Homo sapiens: one gene and its partners. The protein of the gene in region 2 interacts with the protein of the main gene of each other region in a pairwise test. Each region holds a gene or a part of one and is shown on either strand. Other genes may lie near its edges. The genes, in order: EPN2, MID2, UTP25 and AXIN1.

Region 1 (7,026 bases), on a different chromosome or scaffold from region 2:
GAGAGGGCTCCAGCCAGCCAAGGTCTTCTGAATCAGCAGGCTATAAGCCCTCCTCAGACCAGGTGGCTGCTTTGTGTGTCTGGAACAGAGGAGGAAGCGCCCCACTGACCTGGCAGGCTCCAATCTCCCTCCTTTCAACCCTGAGCATTTCCTCCCAAGGCCACTTGGCCAAGTTGCTCCTAGTGCTGCTTGGAAAAAACTGGTAATGATGGGGCTCACTACAAATGGTGGCTTTCAAAACAGTGTTTCTTTCATCCAGAGGGCACAGCTAACACTGTTAGGGGAAGGGACTCCAATCTTTCTAATTTATGAATGAGTCTCAGGATGGAGGGGTGACCCTGAAAATTTGCACTATTGGATTTAACTAGATGCTAAACAATAAATCCAATACCACACTCTTGCTCTGAGGCTACGCTGATGGAATGTGGAAGCAGAGGGTGTGCTAACACGCTTCAGTGAATGCAGGAGCTAGCAGAGGGCCATTCTCCTGCAGAGCTGGTCAACACCACCACTGAGAAAAGAATCTCAGAATTAAAAGAAATCACTGTGATTTTAATGTATTTTTCTATTGAAAGCAGAGTGCCAGAACTGCAAAAACACCCCTATGAACATCACTAGGCTGCTTAGTAAATGATGGTACAGCGTGGTATTGTTTAGAATTTCTAATGATGCCTAGAAATGCTCATGACACTACAAATTGAAATATACACATACATACACACGTAATTATATATACAATATAGCTTCAACTGAGTAAAAACATAATGCCCAGAAAAAAGACAGGAAGCAGACAAGCTAACATTTTAACAGTGGCTATCTCTCCATATTGGAATTTGTGGTGACTTTTCCAGGACATGCCAGGGCCACAGAAGGGCCTTGCAGCAGTCCAGGATGGTGTGACAACTACAGGACATGGTGCCATAAGCACTGAGCCTGTCCCAAACCTATTAACAATGTCTATGGGCTTTGGTGGCCTATCTCCTCCCCAAGTCACTGGTAATAATGCCAAGTGCATCAGAACCAAGAAGGTCCTAGGCTGGGCAAGTGGCAAGAGATGGCCAACTGGCAGTCAACAAGCCACATGTGCCCATCCTCAGATAGCTTTTAATTAGCTCAAACCATATTCTTAATTTTTAAAATTCACAGCCAACATTTAAACACTAGATTTCAAAAATCCAGGTTTCTATCTTCTCTTTAAAAAACTGGATTCATAATAGCCAAAATGTGAAAACAGCCCAAATATCCATCAATTGCTGAATGGTTAAACGAAGTGTTGTATATCCATGCAATGGAATATTATTCATCCACAGAAAGTCATGAAGGACTGACACACGCTATAACATTGATGAACCTTGAAAACATGATGCTAAACAAAATAAGCCAGGCACAAAAGTCCACACAGTGCATGACTCCGTTTCTATGAAATGTCCAGAGAGGCAAATCCCTGGAGATAGAAAGCACATACTGGTTGCCAGGGCCTGGGTATGCGGTTTCTTTCTGGGGTGATGGAAATGTTCTGGAATTAGATATCTGATGGTGGCTGCACAACATTGTGAATGTGCTGAAAACCAGTGAAGTGTCCGCTTTAAAATGGTTGAAATGGGCCAGGAGCGGTGCCTCATGCCTGTAATCCCAACACTTTGGGAGGCCGAGGCAAGCGGATCACTTAAGGTCAGGAGTTTGAGACCAGCCCAGCCAACATGGTGAAACCCCGTCTCTACTAAAAATAAAAAACTAGTTGGTGTGGTGGCACAAGCCTGTAATCCCAGCTACTCAGGAGGATGAAGCAGGAGAATTGCTTGAACCTGGGAGGCGAAGGTTGCAATGAGCTAAGATGGTGCCACTGCACTCCAGCCTGGGCAATAGTGAGACTGTCTCAAAAAAAAGAAAAAAAAAAGTTGAAATGGTGAATTTTATCTCAAGTTCTTAAAATTTGGGAGGGCAGATTCACATGGGCAGCATTCCTAGGTGAAGCAGCAGCCCATCAAGCCCACCAAGTTGCCCCCATTCATCAGGGGAGACTCCTCCGCTCACACCCCCTGGACTCCTGTACCGAGTCTCACCCCAGGGTGCTCTCAACATGGTATTGCTATTACGCTATGTTCCTAGAGGGTCAGGTCAGGTCCTTGGCTCGGCCCAGAACACTGGGTCCAGGGCACAGCCCTGTTCACCAGCCAAAGGAGGGGCTGGGCATAACTTGGTCATTTAAAGATATTTTGAGATTTTTGTCTCTCCTGACTGGGAAAAACTTACCCCTGGTAAACAAGCCAAACAATATAAAAAGGTAAAGTGTTAAAACTAAGTCTCCTTCCCACCACTCTGATCCCCAATTCCCTCCCCAGAATTTAACTCTATTAAACCCACCTGGCTCCTGGTGTGACCACTTTCTTTACAGGGCACTAAGACAACTATCCGACAGTTTAATGAACAGTCTTTCCTGAAAACATCCTAACCATAACTTATGGTGGCCATCACTTTACAGACTAATCATTCTTCAGATTTAAAAATAAAGCCAAAGCCACTGTCTAAAAGGGTCTGCCAGCCCTGGGGCACCACAGTCCCCATGTGTGGTGAGTAAAACCATACCACAGGCTCCCTGGGGGTACCACACACAAGTGACAAACCTTGTGAACCAACCTCTTGAGCAGCCCTGGAACTGGCCTTCAGTCAATGAAAGCTGTGGGCAATTTTGCCTGGGGCTTTTCCCAAGGCCCAGAGGGCTCCTGCCAAAGGGGGTATAAGGCCCTGCCTGGGTTACAGAGGCCACCATCAAGCTATTGGAACTCACCAGATGCTAAAGGGCATCGGGGGCTGACAGTGTCTTCTGGACCAAGTCCAAGCACTTGGTAAGGCTGAGTGCAGGCCCTGAGTGATCTGGGCCCTTCTCCCCTGCTTCCCAGTTCACACCAGCTGGTTGCATCTGCACCCACTCCACCACTCCGTACCCCTCTGCTTCTCACACGCTGAGTCTTCTGCAGGGAACTCCCTGCCTCTTGGTGCCTGGACACCTTCTTTTCCCTGGGGACTCAACGGAAGTGGCCTTCCTCCAAAATGCTTACCTCACACTCCTGGACTCCTGTACTGAGTCTCATCTCATCCCAGGATGCTCTCAAATAACCTCCATCGAGTCCTGGACTACACAGTACTGCTATTACGCTGTGTTCCTGCCCTGCCCGCTCCTGAGCAGGGCCTTGACAACAGACAACAGGGACAATAATCACCTGTTGTCTCAGGGGTCATGCACAGCAGAACACAGCCTGTCACTTGGTACATTTTAGCAAACATCTAGGGAACCGAGTTAAACACAAGAGACGGTTCTGAGAGAAACAGAGACTCCAGGAGATACAGGCAAGATGCCACAAGATATACAAAGTTCCCAAACAGCCCACAGGTCAGCCACGCCCAGTAGGGTTTAGCACACCAGGAGGGGCCTCCCAGGGCACCAGGCCAGGAAGCCTTCATAAAGCCTGCTGGGCCATGCTCCTGCCCAGTGATTAAGAAACTCGTGGGCCCAAGATCATCACCCAAATCAAACCAGTTGTGTCATGCTCACATTTTGAACTTCCCACCACAATTCCTCTTACATCTCACATTAAGCAAAACTTTAAAATATTCATTTAGCCTATTAAACGGATTTTCTATTGCTTTAAGTAACAAGCAGAATTATAGCAAATGTATCCCCTTTTCATCAGCAGTGGTGGTAAGCACATCATAATTTCCATCTAATTACAGCAGCTTGATTTGGATGTTCCATGCTGTGTATTTTGGTTCCTTCAGCTGGGACGCTGGGTGTAACGCTGAGGCTGCAAGAGTTGAAACATGTCCCAGAGAAGGCACAAGCCATTTCTGATGCAAATGGGAGGTTGAGGGGAGGTTGACTTTCCTTCTCCCAAAGCAGAAAACCACTCAAAACAAAGAGGGAACACCATGCCACCATCCTCAAGGAGGAGGGCAAGGGCCAGTTGGATATCACTGCTGAGGGCTGGAGGAGCCTGGACACCCACCACAATCGACCAGACCCAAGTGGGTGAGAGACAGCAAGAAGCACTGCCCTGCCCCTCACCCATCCAGCAGGCAAGCACGGGAGACCAGTAATGGGGTCTTTACCAAACGATGGCCAGGGGTCTGAAGTACTCGCAGGAGCCGCTGGCCCGCCCCAGGGGTTGGTCTGGTTAGTGGAGGCTGACGGGCCCCAGGGCTCTGCTTTCTGGGCCGCGGGGCCCGAGCTGGGGAGAGCATCCATTAAATCCAACAGCGTAGTCTGCTGTGGGAGAGAGCCATGCTTTTAAGACAAAGAGAAGGGGACAGGTTTTACTATGCTACAGTTACAGCAAATACTCATGAACTAGCCATAAATATCACCCACCTGTGCCTCTTCCTCCAGTGAAGCCCTCTAGGAGGGGCTGAGAAGAACTTGGAAACTGAGCCGTCCCATCTCCCTCCCCGTCCAGCCAGCTCTCCAGTCACAACAAGCTATTTACTGTTTGCTAAACCCCCTCACCAGACTTCAGAGACCTCAGGGCTCAACAGACTTTTCCAGGCTAACACTGGCTTCTGCCCAGGCTGTGGACCTCCTCCAGAACGCCATCCCTCCCACCTGCCAGCCACCATCCAGGGCCAGCCTGAGGGCCCTCCTCCTCGGGCACCTGCATGCTCCCCACTCTCAAGACCACCCCATGTGTCATCAGGGATCATCAACATCAACCAGTCAGGAGCCAGGGGCTCCACCGGCCTCAGTAGCACTGTAACAGAGGAGGCCAATGGAGCCCCGGGGCCTGTGGTGTAGAAGGGGTCTGGGTCTTGACTGGATGATGATGAGCTTGTCAAGAGCCCAGCCATGTCCTGGTCATCTCTACATCACAGCAGGAAGCCTGGCACAGGGCTGAAGAGGCAACCAGCACTTCTGGGGGCACACCCTGCTGCAGGAAAGCGTTCCGCAGCCCCTGGCATGTAGCTCACTTGACAGCTGCCGTAGCCACAGCGGCAGGAGGCAGGCACTATCATCACCTCCATTTTACAAACGAGCAGACTGAGGCACTGGGACATTAAGTGTCTCCTGGTTAGTTCAGGTGTGTTTTCAGTCGCTTGCTCACCTGGCTCTCGCTCACTACAGGCATGAAGGTTATTTGCTGAGGTTGGAGAACTCACTGTGCATCACGCCATCCAGGCAAGTTGGTGGGGGGATATTGAGGCAACAACTACAGGACAGGGTGAAACATCTACCCTCCCAGCAAGCTCTTACCTCTTTCTTTTTTGGAATTTTAACTGTGTCCCTTCGGCTTTCTTCCAGGGCCATCTGTAATCTGAGGTCATCACCCCGCCTGAGGCGTTCTTCCTGTAGAGGGACAATGCAAACTGGTAATTGTAATAACATCACTGTACAGAACAAAGCCACACTGGCCAGAAACAGGAAATGCACATTGTATGATGCAGTATTTCAAAGGAAGATTTCAAAACTACTTGTAAAACACAATTACTTTCAAATCCCAAATGTGTGTGTACCCAGAAGGCCCCTCCCTCATGGCGACTCCTGTGACTTGGACCCCTGTGGGGTCACACCAGGGAGACTATGGCTCAGGTACCACCAAACTGGGGAAAGGGAATGCTTAATCTAAAATATTTTTTTCTCAAAATGAAACTGGCTTTATAAATTCTACTTATAGAAGCAATGTGTGTCCTTATAAAACACAAATCTGACAACCCAAAAAGGAATTAGAAAGAAGATAAAAATCACGTATCATTCCACCTCCACTGTGTATGCTTCCGGAAAATGGCTGCATATTTCTATGATTCCTAACAGAAATGATTCACTATCTTTATTTAAGGCAAAGTCACCATATGCAAAAGACAGGGTTGTCCTAAGCTTTTATATAATATAATAATTAAATATAAATAATATATTCCTTGTATTTTTTCTTTTCTTGTTTTTAAGAGATAGGGTCTCATGGTATTACCCAGGCTGCTACACAGTAGCTATTCACAGGGACAATGCCACTACTGATCAGCACGGGAGTTTGAACTTGCTCCCTTATATTTTATTATAAATATTAACTAAAATGGGCTCAAACCGTCCGTCTGTCCCTATGTTTCTCAGTGGATGCTACCACGCACCTTCTTCCTGGGCTGCTGGCCATGAAGCCACATGCATCCACCTGGGCAGTTACTGGTGGCCTGTTTCCCACTGCAGGGACAGAGAGGCCACAACTGAGATTGCCCACTGTCACTGAGCTTTAGAATGTTGCCAGTTATAGACACACAAACAATGCCGGGATGAACTTGTCAGTACTCAAATCTAACTATCCCCAGTATTCCTCTCTGAACACCAACTTCTAATAGAGGAGAGGAATCCCTGTGCTGCCCCTGGTCCCATCTACCTTTTTTAACCAAAGGTCATTGGAGACAGCCCTGATAACTGCAACCAAAGGCTTGACAATTTGTAAGGCCACTCTAATTGCTCCTTTCCCTTCTCGCTGTTGTAAAGTAATGCATGCTTACTAAAGAAAAATGGGGGCCAGGCACGGTGGCCCAAGACTGTACTCTCAGCACTTTGGGAGGCCGAGGTGGGCAGATCACTTGAGGTCAGAAGTTTGAGACCAGCCCGACCAACATGGTGAAACCCTGTCTCTACTAAAAATACAAAAATTAGCCGGGCATGGTGGCACGCGCCTGAAATCCCAGCTACTCGGGACGCTGAGGCACGAGAATCACTTGAACCCAGGACGCGGAGGTCTCAGGGAGCCAAGATTGCACCACTGCACTCCAGCCTGGGTGACAGAGTGAGACTCTGATTCAAAAAAAAAAAAAAAAAAAAAAAAGAAAGAAGGAGAAAGAGAGAAAGAAAAGAAAAGAGAAAAGAAAAGAAAAATGGGAACTGAAAAAAACTAAAACTATACATACTTCCATCATCAAAACACAAGCACTCTCATTTCGGGAGCATTTTTTCCCAGCCTTTGTTTTTTGCAAATCTCTTGCTACAGGTCAAAGTGCTTGGCGGGGGCTGGGCTGGCTCCTGCCCCTCAGGCCTGC
Region 2 (7,026 bases):
GAGAGAGTTAGCTGGGTCATAGAAAGACAGCATATTGTTGTCATAATCCAGGAGGACACCCAGACGCTTCAGGTGTGGGGGCACATCCACCAGCATTTCCTTGTTGTTGTGTCTCACCACGAAGTTACTATTGCAGCGAGAGAAGACCCATGAGGAGGCATTCTTGCCAATCCATTCATTCTTTGGAGCTGATTTGTAGGCAATGCCAATTGCATACCTGTGAGACAGTGGAAAGGAGAGAGAAATAAACATTTATGAATTATCTGAGTTGTGTAAGACACCATATATGATATATAACAAATAGGATATATGTTTATTCCTTAAATAGTTTACACTTAGATGCATAATGCTGATATCACTAGAGCTTTAAAAAGTTAGCAATTAGAGCAATGTGGCAGTTTCCATCTCCTAGCCCAGTATATTTTCCATTATTTTATTAAAAAGCTGGCAAATTTTTCTAGGAGTGGTTTTCATCACATACCTTTTAACCTTGACTTATTGGTATTATGGTTGTGCTATAGAATTGAATCTCCTAGGAACCTAATGACAGAGGACAGAAAAGAAAAGGAAAATGGGATCCACTCACCATGTTGAGGAACCCATGACCACCTCCCAATAGTGGCAGCCACTGTCAATGAATATATTTCCTGCTGCCCCATAGCACCCTGTGCCACTAAACCTCTCTGGGGTGTGGCTCTTCTTTAGAGAGCTTTCATCCTTCTCCATCTGCAATCCATCATTGGAGATCTTCAACTTCTTGTGAGTCATTTTGGGATCCAATTTAAAGGGTTGGCCTGAAAAATAAGTAGAAAAAAAAAAAAGAAAAAGCACTATGAAGTATCTTAAAATTCTACCTTTTCCACCAGCATCATCACTGGCAGGGTATGCTCGATAACATGATCACTCTTGGTCCAGTGCAAGTTGGCTGCTGTTTAAATTTTATTAAGAAAACAGGCCAGAAACCAGAGTTTTCAATAAAATAAGAATAAAGGCCAATCTCCCATAAAACGACCTTCATAACGGCGTTTATTTTCCCACTGTGGGAAAAAATGTGGATCTCTCCTAAAAGCAATTTGAGGGAAGTCATATTCCAAGCAAAGAGGAGCTAATAAGCTGTCCCCCACATCATATATTATCAAAGTAAAAGGGAGTGCTCAAAGTTTCATGTTCTCAAATATGTTTTGTACTTTGCTTAATTTCAGTGGGTTGTTTGGGATTTGGGTAGATTTTAACAGAAAGAGTGTTATGATGTCTGAGGTGAGGGGAATTGATGTAATTGCTGCTTGATGGCAGAACCGGAAAACCCTGAGAACTCAGCAACTGAACAATTATTTTTGCCCTCTTACAATTGGGATGTAAATAACATATAATTAGGCAATTTTGTTAGAGTGACTGTTGCATCATCAATGATCAGAGAAAACATTTATTGTGTAGGATCATTCACAACAGATAATTCTTTATAACCATATGACAAAGGCATTGTTACTGAGGGACCAGTTGCTGGGTGTGGCAAGAGATTTTTATACAGAATGCTTCTGTGACAGACACTGTTGGCTAACACATTACCCTTTCCCAACTTTTTCTCTCTTACTCACTTTCACTATAGAGGCCGGAAAAGCTAAATACTCAATCTTCCAGCCTCCCTTACTGCTAGGGGCGGCTAAGAACATGGAAGCAGATGGAAGCAGAAGTCAGACAGAGCAGGGGAAAGTTCTAGGAAAGTTTTGGATTTCCAGATAAAAGGGATAACCATTATGTGTACCAACTCTTTCCTCTTTCCTATCTTGAGAGGTAATATGACATCTGAAAGTTGCAGTGGCCATCTTGCAGCCATGTGGCAAGAAGCCAATGCACACAGGGAGAAGGAGCCTGCATCTTTTATGACATCGCAGAGCAGCTGCATTAGCCCTGAACTGCCTACCTTCAAACTTCTTCCTATGTGTATGTGTGAGAGATAAAATATATACTATTCATTTAAACAATTAACAAACGCTATTTGTTAAGCTATGTTAGTTGCACTTTTTGTTATTTGCTGTCAAAAGCATTCCTAACAGATATGGCTTCTCTGTAGTAAGATTTTACTAGATTATCACAAATAATGCTCTTTTATGCAATTGTCCCCCAAATATAAGGGGTGGAGTACAGAGAAAACTCTTCACTAACATCCTCCCAAGCTAACAGTCTTTTTGTGCATATCTCTGAGTCCACAAATCTCCCATGGGCACCAACAAACTCCTTGCCCAAAGTACAAACTACAACAGTATAGCTCCTCTACCCAGTACCACTGCTCCCCATGCACTGCTGTGAGTGCCTGCTCAGGCTGTGTACTCCCCTGGCATGGAGAAGAAAATTGATCTTTCCTTTTGAAATCACCACAACGTACTGTTTGTTTTTAGTCGGGTAGGTTCACTGTTCCGGCTGCCGGCTTGGTTTATGGCTTTAACGATGAAGATGTAGCGAGTCCCGCTCTGGAGTCCATGCACTGTGTAATGGTTCTGTTTAATGTTGGGAACAATCATCCAGCTGTCTACTGAATTATACAGGCCTGTAACATGGGGAAAGACAAGGACATTAACCAGCAGGTAAGAGAGACAGAATGAAAAACACACTGAAAATTCATCATAAGCCACCCCCTCAAAAGTGAATTCATTTTGTTTTCTTTTGAGTCTTAGAAGATGTAATGAGATGAACCAGGGCTTATGATTCCACTATTTCATTACTCCCATAGAACTAGGCTTAGGCCAGGCTCCTTGCTTGTGGCAATTGAATGGAACTACTAGCATAAGTTAGGTTATTTCAATTTCTTTCCCAGATAACACAGGAATGGCTACTATACAGAGTCACGGAATCATCACTCTTATGGAGTCTCTGGATATTTACTCCAAACGTCCACTCCTCTGAGAGCTGAGTTTGGTCTTGTATGGATGGAGCAATCCTGTGCAGAGCAGGGAAACATGGAAACTCAGCCAAAGGGACACATAGATACTGTATTTCCCTTATTTTACAAATGGGAAACTAGGATTGAGAGAAGAAAAGTGACCTGCCCAAGGCCACAGATAGTCAGTGATGGTGCTGAGAATAGAACCCTGGTATTTTTAAAATGGTAGCCCAGTGTTCTCTCTACTACATCACAGTTCATGGGGTGAACAACAATGTTCTTTTGTCTCTGCAAGGTAGTGAGGCTCTCAGGGCTTACAATTCCACTCTCCTACTCCATCCTTACCCTTACTTCCCAAACTAGCCGGTCTCCACAGTACCGTAGGGAAGCCAAAGAGATGACATGATAACCAAAGCAAGATATCATCTCCCCACTATTACACAACACATTCTGTTGTGTGATTCCCATGTTCATTTTGGGTTGAGTGGTCCAGGAGCACATTGTTATCTGGAATCTTCCTCCCTTCCAAGTAGGGAAAGGGATCAGAGAACTAGGCTTCTGCTTTTGATATATTTTAGACTGCAAATATTAACTTAAACAGGGGAAATGTAAATAATTAAAACATGTATTTGGCAAGCTTTCGGTAAAAGAAAAACCAACATTCTAGTCTGCAGATTATTTAGACTTCTTTCTACTGTTATCTGCTTTTCAGTTAGTTTACCACTTTTTAGCCACAGTTCTACTAGAGGGTAGAAAGGGAAAGGCGAGGAATATAAGCAGTGAATTCAGTCATTTCTATGCAACTCTAGTACAAAATTTAGTGAGGTTGAAAATTGAAAATAATAAGTCATGAATGTTTTGCAAGAGATCTGATCAAAGGGCTTATAATTAATCTGAGAGGAAGTTGAAGAGCCTAAGTTAAAACTAGTAAAAGAAACGATGGAGGGCAAACAGATATGCAGGAGAAAGAGGAGGAAGAATTGGTGGAGGTGCCCAGTGATTCTAATGAAAAGACAATATGGATTAAAAGGGTAGGAGCAATGTTTGAGGCCTTGCCTATGTTACCAATACACAGTATGAATCACAAGCTGCACATAAGATTTTAATACAAAGAGGAAAACATATAATCTCCAGATACACACCCAACAATACAAAGACAAACTTCACAATGAAGTACTATGCAGCTGTGAAAAAAATGAGGAAAAGATCACTATGAACTGATATAGAGTGATTTCAAGGAAATATTGTCAATTGAAAAAAGCAAATTCCAAAAGTATATATGTATATGTAGTATATATGCAGTACACTACTTTTTTGAGAGAAAGAAAAATAAGAAAACATCCATATATTTGCTTGGATTTACAAAGCAACAACAATAAAAACAGGAAAGATAAATAAAAAATTCATGAAGTTGGTTATCCACAAGGGGTAGGGGGTGGAGGAACAGGATTAAAAGGATGTGGGAGGAAATGACATTTCTCTGAATGTACCTTTTTGTATAGCATCCTCTTTGGGAAACACATTGTTTTACAAATTCAAAAAAATAAAATTAAATGAATACAGATGGGAAAATTGGGGACTAAAGCTGAAGGCAAACTGAAACAAACCCAACTGCATTTCAGACGAACAGCATAATTACATCAATGTAGTGGGGGTGGGAGGAAAACCTCAAACAAATCCTGAAGTATTGTTAGCCAGTTTGTTTTTGTTGTGGCGTGGACAGAGCAATTCAGAAACTATTTTAGATGTATTATGGGATTGAGCAAATGAGTACATGTGTTGATGTTGGGAGCCAGGGTTCATACTGTGGAAGAAGGAACATACAAATACAGAATGGAGAAAGGCAGGAAGGAACCTGTGGGGATGGACTGGAATTTAAGGTATTGGTGTAAACTCATGATTTCTAAAATATATATATGTTTGTGTATGTGCACATAAATATGCACATATATAAAGTATGTATGCATGTGTTATTATATATGTGTGCATATGCTTACATGTATGGATATTTGTGTTTATATCTAGCATATCTAGCACTCAGGTCTTGGTCTCTAATATTGTCCCACTAAAAGAAACCAGGGTTTCTTGGAAAATAATGACTGATTTCAAGGCTGGGACAGAATAAGGTCAAAATGAGCCTAGAACATTTTGTTATGCCAGAAAGTAAGGAAGTGCTCAAGAAAATGATGGGGGAATATTATAAGGACCCAGAAATCACCTTGAAAGGCTCCCAATGGCTAAATCTTGACAATTTGAACACCAACACAAGTAAGGGCTGTAAATAATTATTAACAATTGAAAAAAGATAATTCATCAGCCCATACTGATATATAAACAAATGGGAGGAAATGGGGAGTGGAACTCTTGCTTATAGTAGAATGCCAAGTGCCAACTTGAAAATGTGGGAGGGAATACTCAACTGGAAAAATCATCATTTTGCAATCATCATATTAATGATTGATTCAGGCAAGTATCATCAACTGATAATAAAACAAGGGTGGGGGTAGGGATGAGATGGTTTGATGAAGCAGCAGGGTATTTTTATGGTTTTAAAACATACCACACAGATTCCTTATTAGTGGCAAAAGAAAAAGTAGCAACTACAGTGAATAAATCAGACGACATCTTGACTAGGTGATCAAAATTAGCATCATCAGTGAAGGGCAAGTGGACATCATGTGTCTCCAGATATTATACCCTAAGAAAGAACTGTACTGCTAAATATAATCATGAGAAAACTTCAGAAAAAATCAAAATAAGGAACAGTATAATGAAGTATAATAAAGACATAAAAGAACACTTTTTAAAAAATGTCAATGTTGTTCAAGACAAAGAAAGGCTGAAGAAATGTTCCAGATTAAAAGAGATATGGCAAAAGAGATACGACAATTAAATGTAATACCTGACCCTAAACTATAAAGGACAATATTGGGTTCTTTATATGTCATAAAGAATATTATTTGGTCAAATGTCAAAAATTGAAATATAAATGGTGGTTAGATAAAAGTATTGCATCAACGTTAAATTTCTTCAAGTTGGTAACTATACTGTGGTTATGTAAGAGAATTTCCTTATTCTTAGGAAATATACACTGAAGAATTCAGAGGTGAAAGACCATGATGTATGCAATTTGCTCTAAAATGGTTCCAAAAGAACAGGGAATGTTAGCAAATGCTAAAGGAAATGGGACAAATATTAACAGTAGGTGAATTTGGGTAAAGAATATATGGGTGTTCTTTGTGCTAGTCTTGGAAAGTTTTCTGTGATTTTGAAATCATTTCTAAATTTAAAAAGGTAAATATATGATCCTCTAGGTATTACTGAGATTTAGTAAGATGGGACTTATGATTGAATTATGTCAGTGGAAGTATACCTCTTGTTCAAAAGGGAAAAATTACAATATGGAAATCCCTGAACCTGAGTGTAAATGTGTGGTAGAGAGTATTTGCATGAGAATGAAAAGGAAGGGAAATAGAAGTTATGTCTTTCTGGTAGTATGTTATGGTCCGCCTGGCTAGGCAGAGTTTACGGCTAATGCTTTTGTAATGCAAAACACAAAATTCAAACGGAGGAAAGATAATAAAGTAATCAGAAGACAAACACACTCAAATATCTGTTGGAATTCTCATTCACCTCACAGCATAATCTGAAACATCATTGGTTGTGATCATTTCAAATCTTAGAAGAGGTGGGAAGAAAGTTAAAAATCAGGAAATAAAGTTGAAAGAAAAGGTGAAGGGGGAATAATCCTCACCAACAAGCATGAAATTTCTGGATAAAGAAAATGTGAAAAAACGTCAAAGGAAAGTAGCTCTCAGAACGGAGGTTCAGTCAACTGTGGCAGGCCAGACCGGCAGGTAGGATTGGGATCCTGAATCTTCAAAAATACTTATTCCTAGTAAAATAGTTTCTCATTGCCATCCAAAATTTTGCTTCAGGCCTCTGCCCTTGTCCTTGTTCTAACAAAATTTTCTATCAATAACTAGAGGAAGAAATAGAAGGCAGGCTGTGAGGGTAAGCAAGTATATTTGAAGGTAGAATCTGTATCCCAAAGGATTTTAGCATGCTGAAATGAAGTGGCAGAACTAACCAGATAAAATGTACTAGGGATAAATTCAAGGCTTTGTATTTTTGTTTTAGACATTCAA
Region 3 (7,026 bases), on a different chromosome or scaffold from region 2:
TTGACTAAGAAATCTCTAAAGGCCACATTAGTATCAAATTTCTAGAATCCTATTAAACTCAATGAGAAAATTCTAAAAAGATGAGGCTTCTTCAATACGGAGAGATGCAGTTCAGGGCAGGGGGACAAGTCCTGGTTCTATAACATCATGAATAATGTAGATAAAATTGAAAGCCATTTCCTGTTAAGGCCTCAAATCCACTAGAGCTTAGACTTATGAATACAAACGCATCACTTTAAGCAGCAATAACTTTACAGTGGCAAATGTAAATTTTTGCTTTCAAAGGCTGACGTATGTATGTGGCTTAGTGAAGAGAATCTATGGTTCTTGTCTCATCTCTGCTATTCTTTCCCTGGTTCTCTTTAGCAAGGCCCTCTATGAATTTCTACGAATTTGGGGTTGTCCACAGCTGTAATATGGAGGGATTGGATAAAAGGCTCATTAAGGTCCCATCCAGCTTTGACAACCACAAAGAAGAGATTTATAATGGAGTTTTATTTATATACTCTGGGTTTATCTTTAAGGAAAGTGTCATGAAGTGCCTCCTTCTCGCAAGTTTCCAGCTACATCCACTGTCAGAAACAGCCCACTAAGCTGCTGCAGTGCTGCTCTGACACTACCTGGCCTACTTAATATGCTCACATTTGGGCTCATTCATTATGCCAGTCAATTATTAAAATACCCAAGTTCCTGCTAAGTGTCAGGCACCTCTATGGCAGTGCCTTGCAGCCACCTCCTCGAGAGCAAAGCTTTCCTGCTGGACTCACCTTGGGCCTTGTTAACCCTTGGTCTCTGAAGTCATCATCATCACCCACTCCAAACTTCTGGCTTCGGCGTCTGCTATTGTTGCCAAGCACCTGGGCATTGGCTTTGAGGATGTGATTTATCACATGCAGGCAATACACATGGCGGATCTCTTCCCCGTTCTTCAGAGCAGTCCTTTCCGGGTAGAACAGGTCCCGGTAAGAATTCATAATTAAGAAGAGTTCTTTCTGGAGGGGGGTGAATGGGCTGCTTGATTTTTGGGGACCAGATAGGAACTGGCTGTTGGTCTTAGTCCAGGTGGATTCCAGAGGCTTCTGGAGATGAAGTGACTTTAAGTCAATATCCTTTGGGGGTTTAAATGTTTCCAACTTCTGAAACTTAGAGGAAAAGAAAAGCTGGCCCAGAATAGGCCACTAGGGGAGAAACAGATCAAGAGCCAAATTAGAAATGAATAACAGTAAATTACATTCACATAGTACTATATTTAGCGAATTTTTTCATGATTTATAGATCATCTCATTTAATCCTCACAACAGCCCTGCAAGGTAGTTACCATGATACTCATGTTATAGTTTAGGAAGCACTGAGGTTCATACAGAGGTTGTATGATACAAAGTTTACACAGAAGAAAATGGAGCTGAGGGCTAGACCCCAAGGTTTCTGACTTCAAATCTGAGCTCTTCACCCTATCAGTTGTCCCACACTGTTCTGTGGAATATATTCTGGGAAGAGTCAACATTCATTCTAGAAACAAAGGGGTTCCATGGTCAAATACCCTTGATAAACATCACAAAACTTAATTCCTCTGAGGGAGATTGACAATGTACACTCGATACTAAAGGTGTTGACAAGTTCTATGACAAGAAATCTGTCCATTTTGTTTAAATCCTAAGGAATACTATTTTCTATTTTGTGGGATACAAGTTTAAGAATTTTTGCATTATAGCTAAATTGCTGATCTAAAAATAGGACAACCTCAGCAATAAAAAGAAATAAATTACTGATAGCTGAAATAACTTGGATGACTCTCCAGGGAATCATGCTGAGTGAAAAAAAAACAATCTCAAAAGGTTACATGCTGTATGAGTCATTTAACATTTTTAAAATGACAAAATTATAGAAATGGAGACCAGATTAGTGGTTACCAGGGGTTAGAAATGGGGGTGGGGCAGGGTGCAGAGGGAGGCAGATATGGTTATAAAAGGGCAACAAGGATTTGTATTTTGCTGGAAATGTTCTGCATCTTGATGGCAGGAGTAGATACAGGAACCTATGCATGATAAAATTGTATATAAATATAGGCACAGGCATATGCAGTTGAACAGGAGTAAAACCAGATCTGAGTAAGACTGGTAGATTATATCAATGTCAGTTTCCTGGCTGTGACATTATACTACAGTTCTACAAGATTTCACCACTGAGGAAAACTGGGCAAAGGGTACAAGATGTCTTTGTATGATTTCTTACAACTGCATGTATATCTATAATTATTCCCTCAATAAAAATTTCAATTAAAAAAAGGATGACCAACTCTCATGAATGGCATCAGTGGTAAGAACAAAGAAGCAAAAACTGCCCAATATCTGGATAATTTATTTGTGGACCTACCTCAGATATTTCAAACAAATGAACAACAGTAGTACCTACTGTTTTAATGAACACTGTTTTACTGAACACTATGTATTAGTAAACTATTCTATTTTGAGATAGGTATTATTATCCCCCTCTAGCAGACTAGAATAGTGAATAGCAAAAAAGCAGATGAACTTGCCTTGGGTCAAAATGTGATAGCTCCTTGAAGATGTTGGTCTCCAAATCCACTCTTACCCATCATTATATTATCTGGCACCCACACTCCAGCTTCCTGGTGCGTTTTCTAGCTACAACTGTGCCCCACTAGGCTCTTCTAGCCTTCCTTATGCCCTGCTTCCCTATCAAGCCATCTACTGCAGGTGTATATCATACATTCTGGGAGGCCACTAAAACCCAAGACCACTGTTTTATTTAGAGCTTTCTCTATTTGTGACCGGGATGACCAAGCAACACTTACTTTAAGCTCGTGGGTAGTTTTGGGATTTGTGGCAACAGCCTGAATTGCTTTTTCTTTCAGTTCTTTGTTCACATGTTGAAGAAATGGATCTAATTCAGAAATAAAAAATGTCAGCACACTATGCAACTACAGAGGGGTTTTGTGGTCTTCCCCTGTGAAAGACATGTTGATCTTCATTGTGTTAACTCATCCTTTTCTCCATTGACTTTCCCCACCCTCTGGCCAAGTCCAGAGCTTAAAAACTTCTGAAAGGTTCATTTTCCTAAAACATTTCTCTAATTATATTACTTCCCAGCTTGAAAACTTTTGAAGAAACTTCTCAGCCTGGAATTCAGAGCACTTTAGGATATACCTCCAACCTGCATCTCCGTTATCATTTCTGGACTATATGGCCCTCAAATTCTTCTGCCTCTGTGCTTTTCCTTCCTTCAACTAAAAATTCCAGCCTCTCCTTCACTTCATTTTTGCATATCCAAATGTTATCAATTTAATGTTACCCACTGAATCACAATAAATACTTCCCAGGCTTACTGTGTTAGGCACAACGTTGGCTCACCTTGTTCCCTAGAGTCATCACTTTCTCAAGTCTCCTACTCTGCCCAACCCACCCATTCCAACACATATACATATATACATGTCTTATCTAGCAGACTGCAAGGTCTCTAAGAACAGGTTCCATGTCTGATTGATCTTGCACTGGGACACACAGATATGACCAATACTCCACTGAATTGAACAAATGATCCACATGATAGCATCTGCACTCCAAGTAATCTTTAGTATTCTGAGCTAGCCACCCAACCTTCTCTCCCAGTCCCACTCATAAGAAACAGAACAAAGTTAAATGACCCATCCAAGCATCCAAACAGTAAAATTTCAAATGAAATGCATCTTGTATTAAATATCTAAGAGTGAACAACAGGACATAAGAATTCTAGATGCTAATATATCTGTATGAGCAAAACAACCACAGAAATTATGGGACAGTCAAGCTTCCTAATGTTTCCTCCAAAGTTTCTAAGTTTTAATGGTTCAGAATGGAGTTTGTACTAAAATCTACAAATTCTACCTGTCACTTCTTCTCCTGCAAAATAACCAACAGAACTAAATGAGTCAAATGAGGATTAAAATTTCTGTTTCATTAAAGGTAAAGCTGGGTTGAAGAATGGCAATGAGATCAATGAAGGCAATCAGGATACAGAACGAGACCAACCTGACTTGCCCACCCAGACACTGGCTGAGAAACTGGACTTGAGACAGCAGGAACCCATCAAAGCCCGCCATAGGCACGTCTTGACCACGTGACTGCCATTTGGTCACAGGAGTGGTCAAGAGTCTGTGGGAGGCAGGAGACACAGGGTAGGGCTTTTTGGCTTTTGAGGGTCTCCCTGGTAATAAAGACCACTCAGATTAGCCACCCCTGGGTCTTGCAAATCTGAAAAATTACTGCTCCAAAAAGGAACAGCAAGTGAGGGGTAGAGGAAGTATTTTTTCCTCTTTTTCTTTCTCTTTCCCTACTTGGGGAGAAAATCAGAAATCTTCCCCTGACTCCAATAATGAAAATGTGAGGCCTGGGAAGCTGGCCTTCCCTACCATCATTCTTGTTTGTTCTCCTAAATGTCCCGTCCAACCCCTAAACACTGAGAAACACAAAATACCTTTTAGAATTATTTTTCCCAGCTCTAGATCTAGCCACTAAACTGTTTTTATTGCTGTTTGTTCCAATAATAGATTCAATGTGTATTAGTACACAAATTCCATACTAAGCACCTGGTGAATTCAAATAACACACACTGTGCTATGACCTTGAGAGGCTTTCAAAGAAGAGTTGTCTCCACTTTCCTCTTCCAGAAAATTGGTTTCCAGGCTGAACAGTGACTCGTGTTTTGCATCTGTGAACTCTTCGGGGGATGTTTGTGATGTGCCCGGTGGCTCTTCCCCATCTTCTTTTCCCTCAGGGTCAGCAGATAAAGCTACATCTGCAGTTTTGAGAAACATTTTATAAAATTATTTACTCACAAATTATACTTCTGTTGACAAAATTTATTTCCTTAGGCTATACCAACAATAGCGTTCATTGATACTATTTATATTTAGGTAAATTCAGGTAGAAAACATAGATTTCAAAATTAAGCCTAATCATCAACACATGATGCATGATGGTGGGTTTTATGTCTCAATTTGGCTGGGACACAGTGCCCAGATATCTGGCCAAACATTATTTTGGATGTTTCTGCGAGGGTATTTTTGGATGAGCGTTTATTTATTTATTTATATATTGAGACAGGGTCTGGCTCTGTCACCCAGGCTGCAGTGCAGTGGTGTCATCTTGGCTCACTGCAACCTCCACCTCTTGGGCTCAAGTGATTTTTCCACCTCAGGCTCCCGAGTAGCTGAAACTACAGGCATGCACCACCATGCCTGGCTAATTTTTGTATTTTTCTGTAGAGATGGGGTTTCGCCATGTTGGCCAGGCTGGTCTCAAACTCCTAAGCTCAATCGATCTGCCTGCCTCAGCCTCCCAAAGTGTTGGGATTACAGGCGTGAGCCAGATCTCTTTCTCATATACACACATATCCTACCGGTTCTGTTTCTCTGGAGATTTCGAATTAATATACCCACTTCTAGTTCTAGGAACTTATTCTAAAATAGTAACCAGACATAGTACACTAAGATGTACATGAGAGGATGTTCAAAGCAGCACTGATTATAAGAAATAACTGGGGGAAAAAGGGTCTATCAATGGGGTACAATCATATTTTTACAATGGAATACTATGTAATTAAGAAGCTAATGTGAATCCACAGTCACAGATGTAGGAAGTTACGGAAATGTATAAGGCCATTATACAGATACACATAAATATATATACATACTCATATATAATCATAAAAATGTAGTCTGAAAGGTTATATACAATGCTAAAGGTGTTTATCTCTGGGTAGCAGGGATAGAGGGTAACTATATTACCCTCTTAAATGTTTACAGTAAATATATATTATTTTTATAATGATAAAAAAATTTTCATTTTTAAAAATCCAAAAAAGCAAAGAAAAATAGAAACAAACAAAACAAACTCCTAAGTGTAAGTCAATGAATTTTTATCTCAGTAAAACTGATCAGTTAAAATACCTGGAATGATATATAATACCAGAAGGTATAAAAAAAAAATAAGGCTATAAGAAAAATAGGCATTAAAATAATGAGTAAAAAGTCACCCAGCTATATTCAGACAATGGAATGCTATTCCAGCAACTAAAAAGTAGTAAGTGACTAATACATGCACAACACAAATAAATTAGAAAAACATGAGAAGCAAAAATAGCTAGACACAAAAGGAGTCATACTGTATGATTCAATTTATATGAATTTCTAGAACAGGCAAAACTAATCTACAGTGACAGAAGGCGGGTCAGTGGCTGCCTGATGCCAAGGGTGGGGAACTGACTGCAAAAGGATAAGAAAAATTTTTGGAGGTAATGGAAATGTTCTGTATCTTGATTTGGATGTATACCTTTGTCAAAACCTGTCAGACTGTATATTTAAATTGGATACGTTTTACTGTATGTAAATGATACCTCAATGAAGGTGATTTTGAAGTTAAAGAAAAAAGTCACCTTCAAGTCTGAGTGACACAGAGTCCCTGAAGCCTTCCCTAATTTACACTGGCAGTGTTCAACCACTCTGCCTCTCTTCAACACCTTACATCTAGCTGTTCCATGCAATCGCAAATCTACTGTTTGAAATTTTTTATATATATTTATGTCTATCTTCCATCAAACTTGGTCTCCCTAAGAGAAGAACAGTAACCTCTTCAATAAATTCAGACAGTCACAAAGACAGAACTGTGTTCTCCTTCCTCTGTATTAGGAGGTCTTTCACTAGTACTGATGAAGTCCCTGAAATTACAAGCAAAAATGTTATTTCTGCCTAGCTGTGCTAAGAAGGTTCTGTGTTTCCATCAGATTCTCAAAGATACAATCAAACCCAACAAGGGTAAATCCCTATTTTGGATTCATGTCCTTTCATCCAACTCACACAGTATATAAGGTACCATGCTCATGAGATGAACTGTCTATAGTTCTGGCAAAGATGATGAGCCTATAGTAAAGACACTTACTCTCTGGACTTTCAGTAGACTCTGCAGCCATCTCTTCTTCCACACTGACATCGCTACCACCATCTTCATCGTTCATTTCTGCATCATCTAC
Region 4 (7,026 bases), on a different chromosome or scaffold from region 2:
ATCCGCCAGGGGATGCCCACCACCCACCTGTCCCCCGGCTCTGCTCCAGCATCCGTCTGTCCTCTTTAGTGCCATATTTCACCCTCAGCCCCAGTGCAGGTGCCCGCAGCCAAGCCCACACCAGCTCTGGGGCACGCCTGTTCCAGTTGCATTTGGATACTTTTGCAGGTGTGAGAGTTGGGTGCTAAACGTTGGGAGGTTTGTTTATATTAAAATATAGAGGTAGGTGGGGCACAGTGGCTCACATCTGTAATCCCAACACTTTGAGAGGCCAAGACAGAAGGATCACTTGAGGCCAGGAATTTAAGAGCAGGTTGGACAACATAGTGAGATTCCCCATCTCTACAAAAAAAAAAGAAAAAGAAAAAATTAATGGGACATGGTGGCATGCACCTGTAGTCCCAGCTACTTGGCAGGCTGAAGCAGGAGGATCGCTTGACCCCTGGAGGTTGAGGCTGCCTTGAGCTGTGATGGCACCACTGCGATTAGGTGTGGTGGCTCACACCTGTAATCCTAGCACTTTGGGAGGCCAAGGTGGGTGGATCACCTGAGGTCAGGAGTTCGAGACCAGCCTGGCAAACAGGGTGAAACCCAGTCTCTACTAAAAATACAAAAAATTTAGCTGGGCATGGTGGTGGGTGCCTGTAATCCCAGCTACCCGGGAGGCTGAGGCAGGAGAATTACTTGAACCCGGGAGGCGGAGATTGCACTACAGCCTGGGACACAAGAGTGAAACTCCGTCTCAAAAAAAAATTAAATAAATAAAAATAGGCCGGGCACGGTGGCTCACACTTGTAATCCCAGCACTTTGGGAGGCCGAGGTGGGCAGATCACGAGGTCGGGAGATCGAGACCATCCTGGCTAACACGGTGAAACTCCATCTCTACTAAAAATATAAAAAATTAGCCGGGCGTGGTGGCGGGCACCTGTAGTCCCAGCTACTGGGCAGGCTGAGGCAGGAGAATGGTGTGAACCCGGGAGACGGAGGTTGCAGTGAGCCGAGATCGTGCCACTGCACTCCAGCCTGGGTGACAGAGCGAGACTCTGTCTCAAAAAAATGAAAATAAATAGGCCGGTTGTGGTGGCTCACTCCTGTAATCCCAGCACTTTGGGAGGCCGAGGGTGGTGGATTACCTGAGGTTAGGAGTTTGAGACCAGCCTGGCCAACATGGTGAAACCCCGTCTCTACTAAAAATACAAAAAAATTAGGCAGGCATGGTGGCACACTCCTATAATCCCAGCTACTCGGTAGGCTGAGGCAGGAGGATTGCTTGAGCCCGGGAGGTGGAGGTTGCAGTGAGCCAAGATCGTGCCACTGCACTCCAGCCTGGCTGACAGAGCGACTCTGACTCTAAATAAATAAATACATACATAGATACATGGTAACTTAGTTCCCTCTCTTTCTTTTGTATTGACACCAGATTTACTCAATACTGTTTTAGTTTGTCAGTCCAATAAGATGAGAAAATAAGTATGAGATGCAACTTGGAATTAAAGTGATCAAATGTTTGCTCTGACAGATAAGCTTCAGCACCTGTTAACTTGGAGAATCAAGTGAAACTCCACCGGCTTCATGTGGAAGCTCGTCAGGCAGCATCACAACATGTACATAACCCAAGAGCCGTTCTGTACAAGGTTCTCCTTAAAATATAATGGGAGGCCGGGCGCGGCGGCTCATGCCTGTCATCCCAACACTTTGGGAGGCCGAGGTGGGTGGATCATGAGGTCAGGAGTTCGAGACCAGCCTGGCCAACATAGTGAAATCCTGTCTCTACTAAAAATACAAAAATTAGCTGGGTGTGGTGGCGCACACCTGTAGTCTCAGCTACTTGGGAGGCTGAAGGAGGAGAATCACTTGAACCCAGGAGGCAGAGGTTGCAGGGAGCCGAGATGGCACCATTGCACTCCAGCCTGGGTAACAGAGCAAGACTCTGTCTCAAAAAATATATATATATACAGGCCAAGGCAGGCAGATTGCTTGAGCTCAGGCATTCGAGACCAGCCTGGCCAATATGGTGAGAATCGCATCTGTCCCCAAAGTACAAAAAAATTAGCTGGGCGTGGTGGCACACGGCTGTGGTCTCCGCTATTCTGGAGGCTGAGGTGGGAGGATCGCTTGAGCCTAGGAGGCGGAGGCTGCAGTGAGCTGAGATCACACCACTGTTCTCCAGCCTGGGCAACAGAGCAAGAACTTGTCTCAAAAAAAGAATAAAACTAAACTAAATCTGTGCAGAGCTCTGCCCACAGCCGATACATACGCTGCATTCCTTGAGGCCTTGCTGTCTCCGCTCCTTCTGTCTATGCCCCGTCCTGCCTCTCCATCCTCAGGGACAGGACCGGTGGCGAGGGGCCCCCGGCCACCCTGGGCTGGGACGGCATCTGCTGGGGCTGCTGGGTCAGGCCTGATGCTTTTTGTTTTCCCCAAGTGTGCAGCTGGTGCTGAGAGGTGATGGTGCTGCTTGTCCCCACACAGGAGGAGGAAGGTGAGGACGGCGATCCATCGTCAGGGCCCCCAGGGCCGTGTCACAAGCTGCCTCCCGCCCCCGCTTGGCACCACTTCCCGCCCCGCTGTGTGGACATGGGCTGTGCCGGGCTCCGGGATGCACACGAGGAGAACCCTGAGAGCATCCTGGACGAGCACGTACAGCGTGTGCTGAGGACACCTGGCCGCCAGTCGCCTGGGCCTGGCCATCGCTCCCCGGACAGTGGGCACGTGGCCAAGATGCCAGTGGCACTGGGGGGTGCCGCCTCGGGGCACGGGAAGCACGTACCCAAGTCAGGGGCGAAGCTGGACGCGGCCGGCCTGCACCACCACCGACACGTCCACCACCACGTCCACCACAGCACAGCCCGGCCCAAGGAGCAGGTGGAGGCCGAGGCCACCCGCAGGGCCCAGAGCAGCTTCGCCTGGGGCCTGGAACCACACAGCCATGGGGCAAGGTCCCGAGGCTACTCAGAGAGTGTTGGCGCTGCCCCCAACGCCAGTGATGGCCTCGCCCACAGGTGAGCGTGCGCCTGTCAGTGAGGAGGGGGCTTGGGGTGAGGCTGTGTCCCTGCAGAAGGCCAGAACCTCCTCATAAAACTCAGGAAACCCAGGACCGCCAGCAACAGGCAGGAGGCCCCTCTGCTGGAGGGAGTGGACTGGGCCCTGGGTCAGGGGAGTCCACGCCGTGACCTCAGGTGGGAGATGAAGGTTAGGGGACACAGCCCGACCCTGGCTCCCGCTCTGGCCCTCAGTCTTCAGGGGGTGAGCAGTGACTGCCTGTGTGTTTAGAGAGGAAACCAACCCCCAGACAGCACCAGGACAGCGGGCAGGGGACAGCGGGTGGGGGACAAGCTGGCGGGGGACAGCGGGTGGGGGACAAGCGGGCAGGGGACAGCGGGCGGCGGCTGCACCACGGGAGCCTTACAGATGCCAGGAGGGGGCCTCGCAGACGAGGAAGGGGCACAGCCTCGGCCACCGGAGGCCAGGGCGACTCGCAGCTCTTGCCCTTGCAGTGGGAAGGTGGGCGTGGCGTGCAAAAGAAATGCCAAGAAGGCTGAGTCGGGGAAGAGCGCCAGCACCGAGGTGCCAGGTGCCTCGGAGGATGCGGAGAAGAACCAGAAAATCATGCAGTGGATCATTGAGGGGGAAAAGGAGATCAGCAGGCACCGCAGGACCGGCCACGGGTGAGCACCCCGCACGCAGCCAGCCTCGTGGGGCCTGCTTTGCCACCCCTGGCCTCCGCACAGTCTCAGTGTGTGCAGCTTCAGTGTGTGTGGCGAGTGTCGCCTGTGACGCCTCACACTTCCCCTGTCACTGTGGCACCCTCCCGGGCACCCTCCAGCAGGCTCCCTGGGCCCCACGTCTCCAGGAGGAAAACCTCATGTCCCCAGAGAGAGGCTGTCCCTGAAGCCCCGAGCAGGAGGGAAGCTGACGTGGCTGTCACCCCGCAGGCAGCACAGATGCTCTCGGGAGGTCATTTCCAGTCTGACCCCCACATGAGAATGACCTAAGTCACCTGGGAAGGCCCCCACTGACCATCACTCCCGAGGTGCCCACGGAGGAGCCTTCTGTGCTCACACCTGGCCGTCCTGCTGAGGGCTGGGGAAGGCTCTTGTGTAGCGTGAGCACTTCTCTCCTCCCAGAAGGGCAGAGGCCTCGTGTGTGGTGTGGAGCAAGGCCCCGGCGCCACAGGTCCAGCCCCTGCCGCTGCCCGCCGGGCCGGTCTTGGTGTTGCTCCTGCTCGCCCCCTGGGCCTGCACTCGTGCCCGGAACCCAGCAGGAGGGCCAGGGGCCCCACAGAGGTGGTACCCCCCACCTTCCTGTCGTGGTCAGAGGCAGGTCAGCTGGGAAGTGTTGGCCCTGGTGGGTGGATGGCCCCAGCTTCCTCAGACTTAGGTCCTGATCTGCCCCCCACCCTCACCCAGGCCCTGGCCAGGACGCATCTCCCTCCACATTACTTGATGAGAACTTGTGAGGCAGCTGAGCGCCTGGGGCGTGGCCCTCCTGCCTGTGTTGGAAGCCTGTCCCGCAAGGCCTTGGGGTCCCCATCGGTGCTGACTGAGGTGGGGACGGGCTCATCGTTTTTCTGGGGCTCCCGAGGGAACAGGGGTGCACAGCACCTTGCCTGGCTCATTTTTTGTAGAGGGGGTCTCAGTGTGTTGCCCAGCTGGGTCTCAAGCTTTTGGGCTCAAGTGATCCTCCCACCTTGGCCTCCCAAAATGCTGGGACTACAGGCATGAGCCACCATTCCTGGCCTTCGAGTCTTTTTTTTTGAGACGGAGTCTAGCTCTGTCGCCCGGGCTGGAGTGCAGTGGTGCAATCTTGGCTAACTGCAACCTCCACCTCCTGGGTTCAAGCAATTCTCCTGCCTCAGCCTCCCGAGTAGCTGGGATTACAGGCGTGAGCCACCACGCCCGGCTGATTTTTGTATTTTTAGTAGAGACCGGGGCAGGGGGTGGTTGCCATGTTAGGCTGATCTCGAACTCCCAACCTTTGGTGATCCGCCTGCCTCGGCCTCCTGGAGTGCTAGGATTACAGGCGTGAGCCACCGTGCCCGGCCGAATCCTTTTTTTAAATAGCTGTATATACTAAATATTGCATGTCCCATATTTTAGGATAAGTATTAATACATTCCACTTTGAGACATACTTATACTTTTTATTCATTAAGACTTTTTTTTTAATTTTTTGCGACAGAGTCTCCCTCTGTCACCCTGGCTGAAGTGCAGTGGTGTAATCACACCGTTCACTGCAGTCTCAGCCTCCTGGACTCAAAGCTATCCGCCGGCCTCTAGGATTAGTATATAATTTGTATCCCAGTAAAGCTGTTAAAAATAAAATGTAAAAAAAGAAGCCTCATCCCAGCACTTTGGGAGGCCGAGGCAGGTGGATCGCTTGAGGTCCGGAGTTCGAGACCAGACTGGCCAACATGACAAAAACTCCATCTCTACTAAAAAAAATACAAAAAATTAGCCGTGTGTGGTGGCGAGTGCCAGTAATCCCAGCTACTCGGTGGCTGAGGCAGGAGAGTCGCTTGAACCTGGGAGGCGGAGATTGCAGTGAGCCGAGATCCGAGGTCGAGCCATTGCACTGCAGCCTGGGCAACAAGAGCAAAACTCTGTCTCAAAAAAAGAAAAAAAAAAAGTCTCCATGAAAGAATTTTTTTTTTTTTTTTTTGAGACGGAGTCTTGCTCTGTTGCCCAGGCTGGAGTGCAGTGGCCTGATCTCAGCTCACTGCAAGCCTCGCCTCCCGGGTTCATGCCATTCTCCTGCCTCAGCCTCAAGAGCAGCTGGGACTGCAGGCGCCCGCCACCACGCCCGGCTAATTTTTTGTATTTTTTTAGTAGAGGTGGGGTTTCACCGTGTTAGCCAGGACGGTCTCGATCTCTTGACCTCGTGATCCGCCCTCCTCAGCCTCCCAAAGTGCTGGGATTACAGGCGTGAGCCACCGCGCCTGGCCTTTTTTTTTTTTTTTTTTTTTTTTTGAGATGGGGTTTCGCTCCTGTGGCTCAGGCTGGAGTGCAACAGGCCAGTGTCAACGCACTGCAACCTCCACCTCCCAGGTTCAAGTGGTTCTCCTGTCTAACCCACCTGAGTAGCTGGGATTACAGGCACCCACTATTATGCCCAGTTAACTTTTTGTATTTTTGTAGAAACAGGGTTTCACCATGTTGGCCAGGCTGGTCTTGAACTCCTGACCTCAGATGATCCACCCGCCTCGGCCTCCCAGCGTGCTGGGATTACCGCGCCTGGCCATTTTTTTTTTTTTTTTTTTTTTTTGAGATGGAGTCTCACTCTTGCCTAGGCTGGAGTGCAGTGGTGCAATCTCAGCTCACCGCAACCTCTGCCTCCCAGGTTCAAGCGATTCTCCTGCCTCAGCCTCCCGAGTAACTAGAATTACTGGTATCCACCACCACACTTGGGTAATTTTTTGTATTTTTTGAGTAGAGTCATGGTTTTGCCATGTTGGCCAGGCTGTTCTTGAACTCCTGACCTCAGGCGATCCACCCACCTTGGCCTCCCAGAGTATTGGGATTACAGGCAAATGAGGGTTGGTTTTTTGTTGTCTTTTTTATTCCTGAGACTGAGCCTCACTCTGTCACCCAGGCTGGAGTGCGGTGGCGTGATCCCGGCTCACTGTAACCTCCACTTCCCCAGTTCCAGCCATTCTCGGGCCCCAGCCTCCAGAGTAGCAGGGATGACAGGCGCCCAGCTAATTTTGTATATTTAGTAGCGATGAGGTTTCACCATGTTAGGTTGATCTCGAACTCCCGACCTCTGGTGATCTGCCCGCCTCGGCCTCCCGAAATGCTGGGATTACAGGTGTGAGCCACCATGCCTGGCCGGGATGTTTTTATTGTGTGGTCTGTGGAGGACGTCCATGTGGCTTGGTGGCCAGGCCCCAGTGCCCCATCCCATCCTATCCCTCAAGGAGGCTGCCCTTGTGAGATGAGTGTAGCCCCACCAGGCCACCTGGCCAGGGTGTCGGCCACAGTCACAACTTGTTCTCTTGTTCCCCAAGGTCTTCGGGGACGAGGAAGC

Evidence for each region.
Region 1: the proteins of MID2 (region 2) and EPN2 interact in binary tests that used the Homo sapiens proteins (3 or more experiments, as listed by UniProt).
Region 3: the proteins of MID2 (region 2) and UTP25 interact in binary tests that used the Homo sapiens proteins (3 or more experiments, as listed by UniProt).
Region 4: the proteins of MID2 (region 2) and AXIN1 interact in binary tests that used the Homo sapiens proteins (3 or more experiments, as listed by UniProt).

Annotation. Positions count from the first base shown.
Region 1 is NC_000017.11:19,310,361-19,317,386, reverse strand, and holds part of EPN2 (epsin-2), read right to left. Parts: intron 5,336-7,026; coding exon 5,243-5,335; intron 4,283-5,242; coding exon 4,108-4,282; intron 1-4,107. UniProt on the Homo sapiens protein: Plays a role in the formation of clathrin-coated invaginations and endocytosis.
Region 2 is NC_000023.11:107,919,862-107,926,887, reverse strand, and holds part of MID2 (probable E3 ubiquitin-protein ligase MID2), read right to left. Parts: intron 2,546-7,026; coding exon 2,384-2,545; intron 795-2,383; coding exon 587-794; intron 218-586; coding exon 1-217. UniProt on the Homo sapiens protein: E3 ubiquitin ligase that plays a role in microtubule stabilization. Mediates the 'Lys-48'-linked polyubiquitination of LRRK2 to drive its localization to microtubules and its proteasomal degradation in neurons.
Region 3 is NC_000001.11:209,830,953-209,837,978, reverse strand, and holds part of UTP25 (U3 small nucleolar RNA-associated protein 25 homolog), read right to left. Parts: coding exon 6,936-7,026; intron 4,795-6,935; coding exon 4,621-4,794; intron 2,905-4,620; coding exon 2,816-2,904; intron 1,179-2,815; coding exon 768-1,178; intron 1-767. UniProt on the Homo sapiens protein: Component of the ribosomal small subunit processome for the biogenesis of ribosomes, functions in pre-ribosomal RNA (pre-rRNA) processing. Essential for embryonic development in part through the regulation of p53 pathway.
Region 4 is NC_000016.10:293,699-300,724, reverse strand, and holds part of AXIN1 (axin-1), read left to right. Parts: intron 1-1,520; coding exon of another isoform or gene 1,521-1,541; exon of another isoform or gene 1,542-1,714; intron 1,715-2,426; coding exon of another isoform or gene 2,427-2,450; exon of another isoform or gene 2,451-2,465; intron 2,466-2,473; coding exon 2,474-3,003; intron 3,004-3,498; coding exon 3,499-3,669; intron 3,670-7,006; coding exon 7,007-7,026. UniProt on the Homo sapiens protein: Component of the beta-catenin destruction complex required for regulating CTNNB1 levels through phosphorylation and ubiquitination, and modulating Wnt-signaling.